Linked DNA regions of Homo sapiens. The protein of the gene in region 2 purifies or fractionates together with the protein of the main gene of each other region. This does not show direct contact. Each region holds a gene or a part of one and is shown on either strand. Other genes may lie near its edges.

Region 1 (3,500 bases), on a different chromosome or scaffold from region 2:
TCCTGTATGAGAAGAAGGGGCTCCACGAGAAAGGTGTGGGAGTGGTTCCTTGGATCTGGGAGGGGCTCTTGTACATGGCAGGGGAAACCCACTGAGATATGGAAATCTCCCGTGGGGAAAAGGCTCATGACCTTGTTCTTGGGCTTGGTGGCCAGCTCTGCAGGTGCTCGTGGACCAGTCCAAGAAAGCCAACTCCCCTCTGAAAGGCCACGAGAGGACAGTGCAGTATCTGCAGCATCTGGGTAAGTCCGCCTTTTGAAAGGGGTGGGAAAGCGCTCCTGTTCAAATGACCTGGTCTCCCTCTGTTTCTGTTTCTGGTTGGTTGCTCCCCTCCCTCCCGTGCTCGTGTTCACTCAATTTCATTCCTCCAAATGGCATAAAAGTCCCTCGGTGGTTGGCCTGTGACAGCCCCCTGGTATGGAGCCAGCCCAGTAGGGCTAACAACCCCAAGTGGCTCATGCTTGAGCTGTCTTTTCAGGAAAATGAATTCTGGGGCAACCTGCCCACCTGCCTTCCCAGTGCCACAGGCAAGATGGGCCTCAACTGCTGACAAGTCCTGCTTTTCCTTCTAGGCACAGAAAACCTGCATTTGATTTTCTCCTACTCAGTGTGGGTGCTGAGAGACTTCCCAGAAGATGGCCTGAAGGTGAGCCACAGGAGTCCCTTGGATTTATCTGGTAAACACTTGGTTCTGATTGCACTTGAGACAGCAGTGGATGGAGAGGAGGGTGGATTCATGCATCTGTCTTCATTGGTGCATGAAGAAAGGGTGGACTGGGAAGCGCGAGCCAGCACTGTAGTTGGTAGAGAGAGCCTTACACAGGCATGAGGAGGCCTGTGCCTCGTCTGACATGCTGACTGCCTACAGATGCCTTCTCGTACCCTTGCCCTCCTAAAGTCTGTTTGATCCCTGCGCTCACATGCGTGTGTGTTTGCTGGAACTGCAGTCAGATGGTTCTGCTGCTGGAACTCGGGTTCATTCTAACAGATATTTACTGAAGATCTCCCGGAAGTGGAGTCTCTGCCACGTGATCGAGTCCTCGGCTTCTTAATAGAGAATTTTAAGGGTCTGGCTATTCCTTATCTGGTAAGGTATTTTTTGGTCTGCACTAAAAAGCTTTAAACCCAGGATCCAGGACTGCGTGGTTCTGTTATCGGGCTGTTCAGATTTGGGATTTATGTCACTTGGGGATTGGAAGGATGAGGGTTATTTCAGCTTCCTCTGAAGAAAAAGATCCCAGTAGACCAAGCTGGAAATGCTACCTACCAAATCTAGGTAAACTACAGAGGGATAAAAGAATAATGTTTTAGAAAAAAAAATTCCAAAGCCACATTTGGAAAAAAAATTCCAAAGCGAAACTCAAAAGTGACCACAGGACAATCAAATAGGCTTAAGTACCAGGATGCAGATATTTAACCACAATTACATGAGTCGCTATGAGAGTTTGGAGGATTATGGGACAAAATTAGTAAAATGGAGTTTAGTAATTGAGAAGATGGCTCCTCACGTTACTGGGTCGCATTGTGAAACTTCCTGGTGGCTTTAGACGAGCTGTCTCTTAGTCATCTTTGCAGCCCGATTAGGGGATAATCTGGATGGGACCTGTTGGGCCTTAAAAATGTGAGGGAGGCTGGGAGACCAGGTCACAGCCTGGAGAATACCAGTGACAAAGACCTACATCTTGCCTCAGGAACACATCATCCATGTTTGGGAGGAGACAGGCTCTCGGTTCCACAACTGCCTGATCCAGCTATACTGTGAGAAGGTGCAAGGTCTGATGAAGGAGTATCTCCTGTCCTTCCCTGCAGGTACCAGTTCTTTTAGGAAGCCGGTTGGCCCCAGGCCTTAGAGGAGAGCACAGACCCAGGTGCCACGTGTGGTGGGGGTAAGCAGGCCACCCTATTCTCTGCCCAGGTGCGCAGAAGTTCTGAAGAGGAGCCAGGGGAGCTAAGTGACACAAGCCTGGCACATGAGACTCAGGAGCTCTTGTCTAGGTCCTGGCATCTCTGAGTGTCTCAGAGTCATCCCTCGGGGAGGGTGGAAGGAACAGACCTGTCTGCAAGATGACAGCTATACTGATAAGAAACAGGTTTGCCCACAGAGTATTTCTCTATTCAGCTTATTTTTTTAACCGTAAGCTGATGTTTTGGGGCCACATGGAGACTATGAACTAAAAGAAGTTAGCATGGAAGCCACCCTGGAGGCCCTTTCTGGTCATGTGGTGACATCCTTGAACCCCATTCCCTTCATTTTTCTTGATGACCCTACATTGCCACCTGGCAGTGTCCTTTCATTTTGAGCTTGGTTTCCCTTAAAGGCAAAACCCCAGTCCCAGCTGGAGAGGAAGAGGGTGAGCTGGGAGAATACCGGCAAAAGCTCCTCATGTTCTTGGAGATTTCCAGCTACTATGATCCAGGCCGGCTCATCTGTGATTTTCCCTTTGATGGTGAGTGTCTGGCTTAGGGCCAGAAGCCACTTCAGCGAAGGTCATGCAAAGACTAATCCACCCCTTTAATTGTTCCCCAACTCTCCACAAAAGTTGGGCCTGGAAAAACCAGGCATTTCAGGCCAGTGCTCCTGTTTTGTCCTCTCTGAAGACTCACTTTTGTACCGTGACTGAGAAAAGTCTCCTTCCTGGGTATGAACCACATGCTAATTGATAGCCAGGTTGCAACCTGTTTTTTGCTTCAGAACATGTTCTTGGCCAAGTTCATTGTTCAGCAGTTTTTGTAATCTGGCATAATTTGTCTTTATGAGAGCTGAGAGCAAGCATTTGCTCATCTTACCTGAACCACCTAGCATGTTGTAGGTGGTTGTTAAGTACTTGGCTGCTGAATGAATATTCTTACCCAGTTTATATGTGACCTCAAAAAAGATGGGATAAAGTACTTCCTAAAATAGCTCCCTCCCCCTTTTTTAAACTTCAGTTATTTTCTCCTTGAAGAAAAACCCAAGCAATAAGAATCCTATTGTCTTCCCTTTATATTGCCTCGTGTCCACTCCTCTGACAGCATAGCCCCCACCTTGTGCTTGCGTGATGGCGGCAGTGGTTCCTCATATTCCTTTTCCTCCTAGGCCTCTTAGAAGAACGAGCTCTCCTGTTGGGGCGCATGGGGAAACATGAACAAGCTCTTTTCATTTATGTCCACATCTTGAAGGATACAAGGATGGCTGAGGAGTAAGTTTGCCCCAACATCCCACCTCCTAAGCAGTCTAAAAGCAGGCCCTGCAGAGAGATGAGAGTTAAGAAGGCCATCTCCCCATACTCCACTGCGGGAGCAAGAATCGCCTCCGTCCTGGCCCGCAGTTTTGGCTGTGGTTAGGCTGCTCGAGCAGGCTGCACGCACAGCCTCTCATTTAGATGTGCCCCCCTCACACCACCTGCTCTCACCACTCTCTCCCTTGCAGGTACTGCCACAAACACTATGACCGAAACAAAGATGGCAACAAAGATGTGAGTAGTGACCCTGACCCAGGGAGCACGTGTGCATACCTCTCC
Region 2 (5,364 bases):
TCAGTAGCATTAAGTACATTCACACTGTTGTACAACCATCACCACTATCCATCTCCAGAACTTTTTCATCATCCCAAACTGAGACTCTCTACCCTTTAACCAACTCTACACCCTTTAAACAATAACTCTCCATTCCCTCCACCCCAGCTCTTGGTAACCACCATTCTACTTCCTGTCTCTATGAATCTGACTATTCTAGGTCATACGTAAATGGAGTCATACAATATTTGTCCCTTTGTGCCTCATTTTATTTAGTATCACATCCTCAAGGATCATCCATATGGCAGCATGTATGGGAATGTCGTTCTTCTTTAATGCTGAGTAACATTCCGCTGCATGTATATGGCACATTTTGTTTATCCATTCATCCATCAATGGACATTTGGGTTGTTTCCATCTTTTGGCTATTGTGAATAATGCTACTATCAACATGGAGGTACAAATATATGTTCAAGTACCTGCTTTCCATTCTTTTTGAGATATACCCAGAAGTAAAATTGCTAGATCATATGTTATTTATTTATTTATTGAGATGGAGTTTTGCTCTGTCACCCAGGCTAGACTGCAGTAGTGCAATCTCGGTTCACTACAACCTTTGCCTCCCAGGTTCTAGCAATCTGCCTCCCTCAGCCTCCTGAGCAGCTGGGATTACAGAAGCCCCCACCATGCCCGGCTAATTTTTGTATTTTTAGTAGAGACGGGGTTTCACCATATTGGTAGGCTGGTCTAGAACTCTTGACCTCAGGTGATCCACCTGCCTCAGCCTCCCAAAAGTGCTGGGATTACAGGCGTGAGCCACCACGCCTAGCCAGTTATATGTTTACTGTTTAATTTTTTTTAAAAAACCACCATACTGTCTTCCACGGTGGCTGCACCATTTGGCATTCCCACCAACAAGGTTTTCCAACAGCAATGCACAAGGAGTAGGGAGGAATTTTGATCTAGGCAAATTTTTTCAGTACCAGTCACAGGGTTAATGTCAATTTCATTCATCATGCTATAGAAAACCAGTCCAACTCCTCTGAATTTCTCTCATTTATCTCGCTCCTAACACCCAGCTGCCACCTCCAATGAGAATGCTTTACCCTTCAATAATCTTTTTCTTACAAAGTAAATGAAAATTATGGCCTAAGATTTTTCTGGAAAAAGAGAAGGACTTCCCTATCCATTTAAGCATCTCTCTTTACCTCTAAAAAAGCTGCTCAGGGAGTAGGTAGAAGTAGGCTTGGGTAGTTGTGCATAGGAGGAGAAGCTGTTTCGGCTCTTTAGCTGTTCACGCCCCTCGTGGGTTGAGCCGCTATTACCAGCAGTCTCTCTGATGGACCATGAGATACCTGTGAGATAGTAAGAACTACATCAGCAATTCTCATCCACAATAAAGCCTTGACATCCAACATTCAATAAACTCTAAAAGCTTTTCACCAGAAGCCCTGGTCCCTTGGCCAACTTGGGGCAGGGAGAAAAGATAGAATCAAATAGACTAATCAGCAGAAAAATGGACCAAGGACATGAATAGGTGGATCACAGAAAATTCAAATGGCTCTTCAACATATGAAAAGATGCTCAACCTTACTCTTTTTTCTCTTTTTTTCTTTTTTTTTAGAGACAGGGTCTCACTACATTGCCGGAGCTCTGGAGTACAGTGGCTATTCACAATCATATCTAACAGTCATGTCTCACGTCAGCCTCAACTCCTGGCCTCAAGCCATCCATCGCCACTACCCTCCAGAGGCACACACCACCTGCCCCCAGCTTTGCTAAGAGTACTACAAATTAAAAATATAATGAGAAACCATTAGTCCCCTATAAGATGGGGAAAGATCCAAAAGCTTGATAATACCGTGTTAGCCAGGCTATAGGGAAACTGGAACCCTCCTCCATTGCTGGTGGTAGTATGAATTGGTACAACCCCTGTGGAGGTCAATTTGGCAATATCTACCCAATACAGATGCAAACATCCTATGTGAGTAATTCCACTCTAAGAATTGCTCTTTCATTTATGCATCTATGGTCAGAATATAAAGTCAATGATAGAAATATAAAGAGCAAAAGATTGAAAAATCTAAAATTCAACAGTGGGCTGGCTAAAAAATGATGGTAAACCCATACAATTTAATACTATGCTGCTATTTAAAAAAAAGAAAGAGAAAATGAGAACACTCTTTATATACTGACATGGAAAGATCTCCAAGCTATATTAACACATAAAAAGAGCAAGGTATGAAGCATGCTACTGCTTGTGTAAAAATGGGATAAGAATACATGTTTCTATATACTTTTCCAGATGCAAAAAGAGTCTTTAGATGAATACACAGGAACCAAGCAACGATTGTTTTTTGGGAGGACATGAACTGAAAACTGAGAAGATACATAACAATATGGAACGGAAACTTTTCACTGTAGACCTTTAATTTTTTTTTTTTAATCTTTAGTCACATTATAGTATGGCCTATTTTTTAAAAACTTTCAATTAAAAATATTTCTTAAAAATCAGATGGGGACCAGGGATGGTGGCTCATACCTATAATCCCAGCATTTGGGAGGCCAAGGCAGGCGGATCACTTGAGGTCAGCAGTTCAAGACCAGCCTGGCCAACATGGTAAAACTCCATCTCTACTAAAAATACAAAAATTAGCCAGGCATGGTGGTTGGCACCTTTAATCCCAGCTACTAGGGAGGCTGAAGCATGAGAATCGCTTGAACCTGGGAGGCGGAGGTTGCAGTGAGTCAGGATCGCGCCATTGCACTCCAGACTAGGCAACAGAGTAAGACTCCATCTCAAAAAAAAAAAAAAAAAAAAATCAAATGGACTCTGAAAAAGTATTAAGTGGTATCATATACAGCTAAGCAGTGAGACTTGGTGGGTAAGGAAGTCCGTTCTGTCAATCAGTTATTAGTATACTGAGTCAAGTCAGTAGTTCCCAAATATGGCTATATATCAGAATCACCTGCAGTGTTTATTAAAATTTGAGACCCCCTCTACTCCGCAGAAGACCTAATGAACAGAATCTCTGGGATAAAGCCTAGGAGTATGTCATTTTAACAAGCACCCCAAATGAGAATGAAATAGCCAGCTAAGAGTCAACCCCTGAAGAGCAGACCTATATAGCCATGTGGGAACTCCTGCTGGATTTCCCAAGTATCTTCTCCTGGAGTTAAGTTTCCAGATGTATGCTTATCTGAAAATAGTCTTATCCTAGTCCCTCTCCTAACTAGCATTGAAGAAACAAACAAGTAGAGCCTTTATCAGTGATAAGAATCCTCAACATCTATCCCTGCCTAGGGACTCTTCTACTTACTTCCCACAGGTTCCCCACTCCAGCTGACTCGCTCCAGGTCATCATCGTCATCATCATCCACGAAGTCTCGGAGGCTGTTCACCGCCCGCTTGGACTCCTTTAACTGCAGAGGGACACAAGGCTAGGGTGCTCAGGCAAATCATCATTTCCCACCTCTCTTCTGACAATCAAGAAGGCTGAGGAATTGGGGCCTGAAGGTGGCCAACACTCGCCCTGTGCAATCGAAAGCCTAGCATACTACATATTTGCCAAGAAAACAAACTGATTTTTAGCCAACACTACAGTCCAGTGATAAAAGAGTTAGGAGGAATCAAAGTCACTTTTGAATTCTCATCATATTCCTGGCAGTGACTTGCTATGTAAACCTGAGTGAATTTATTCACCTCTCTAAAAATAAATGATTCCTCAATTGCAAAATAGACACAACAAAGATAAATCTTCCAATCCAGTTCATCTTTCAAAAATAAAAAAATATATATCACATAAATAAAAGACTTGGGGTTCTTCAAAAGAAAAAAAAACCTGTAGGAATAAATCATCTTAAAAAGGTAAAGTAAGAAAGGCAGTGAGCTGGATTTTACAATCCTTCTGGCTCTTTTCTGAGCCTAATGAAGACATACATGGTCAAAAGCCTAGTTACCCAGAATGCAAGAGGAAGGAATTTTATAGTGGCACTGTGGAGAAGAGTACAAACTTCAGCAGTTGACCTACCTGTGAAAGCTCATCGTCTTCATCGTCAAAGGTAAAAGCCTTGAACTTGGAGCTGTTCCAATACTCCTCCTCATCACCCTTTGTCCGATTCATCTACAGTGACAGGAAAACATACATTGCCCCTTTCTGGGTCTCTCCCTAAAGAGTTCCAAAAGCTTTAGTTTCCTGCACCACTAACTGATCCCAAAAATCAAGGATGCAGAAAAGAATCTGGTAAAACAAATATTGAACCTGCCATATAAAACCAGATTCTTGGGTCTCCAACTGATCAAATCATACTTCTAATCTTCTAATTACCCATAAGTAGTCATCCATTCTTAAGAGCATCCACTTTGTCCAGGGCACTCTCTCAGGTGTTGTAAGGTATATAAAAAAGTGCCAGAGGCTGGGTGCAGTGGCTCAGGCCTTTAATCCCAGCACTTTGGGAGGCCGAGGCAGGCAGAACACCTGAGGTCAGGAGTTCGAGACCAGCCTGACCAACATGGAGAAACCCCGTCTCTACTAAAAATACAAAATTAGCCGGGCATGGTGGCGCATGCCTGTAATCCCAGCTACTCAGGAGGCTGAGGCAGGAGAATCGCTTGAACCCAGGAGGCAGAGGTTGCGGTGAGCAGAGATCGCACCATTGCACTCCAGCCTGGGCAACAAGAGCGAAACTCCGTCTCCAAAAAAAAAAAAAAAAAGTGTCAGACGTGGGGACCCTACAACAGAGCTAGGGCATTCAGCATAGGTATGTATTAAAAGCAACAGTGCAAGGCAGGCAAATGTTATAAGAATCTATCAAAAAACTTTGCTGAATACACAAGGAAGAGCAATCAGAACATGCACAAAACAGACAAAAATTGCATTCACATTTTCAACAAATACTTATTGAGCACCATCTCTGAGGCACTGTTCTAGGCTCTGGGAATACTACAGTGAATGAACAAATATTCCACCCTCATGTATGCTTTTTAAATGCCTGAAAGAACGGAAAGCAAAGCAATTAAAAGAAGCAGAATTATCTCACCTAAATCTTCAAATTATGACTATTTTATTAACAACTGTTGGCCAAAATTTGAGAAATGAGGGGATGGCCAAGAAAAGCAAGTATATAAAGAAGTAGTCAAAAGACCACAAGTCCCTGTTATAACTACTATAAAATTCAATTTTGCCCTGCAAAAACAAGTTTTGCCCTAGAATTACAAACTAGGCAGGGCACAGTGGCTCATATCTGTAATCTCAGCACTTTGGGAGACTGAGGTGGGAGGATCACCTGAGCCCAAGTTCAAGACTAGCCTGGGCAACATTGTAAAACTGTCTCTACAAAAAAATTTAAAAAACAAAACAAAAAACTAGCTGGACATGGTGACGT

The links.
Region 1: the proteins of VIPAS39 (region 2) and VPS39 fractionate together in Homo sapiens (co-fractionation; one large-scale study listed by BioGRID). This does not show direct contact.

The regions. Positions count from the first base shown.
Region 1 is NC_000015.10:42,163,305-42,166,804, reverse strand, and holds part of VPS39 (vam6/Vps39-like protein), read left to right. Parts: coding exon 1-33; intron 34-155; coding exon 156-242; intron 243-572; coding exon 573-646; intron 647-988; coding exon 989-1,087; intron 1,088-1,691; coding exon 1,692-1,809; intron 1,810-1,915; coding exon of another isoform or gene 1,916-1,932; exon of another isoform or gene 1,933-2,086; intron 2,087-2,318; coding exon 2,319-2,447; intron 2,448-3,076; coding exon 3,077-3,179; intron 3,180-3,409; coding exon 3,410-3,455; intron 3,456-3,500. UniProt on the Homo sapiens protein: Regulator of TGF-beta/activin signaling, inhibiting SMAD3- and activating SMAD2-dependent transcription.
Region 2 is NC_000014.9:77,450,000-77,455,363, forward strand, and holds part of VIPAS39 (spermatogenesis-defective protein 39 homolog), read right to left. Parts: intron 4,104-5,364; coding exon 4,011-4,103; intron 3,403-4,010; coding exon 3,300-3,402; intron 1,335-3,299; coding exon 1,188-1,334; intron 1-1,187.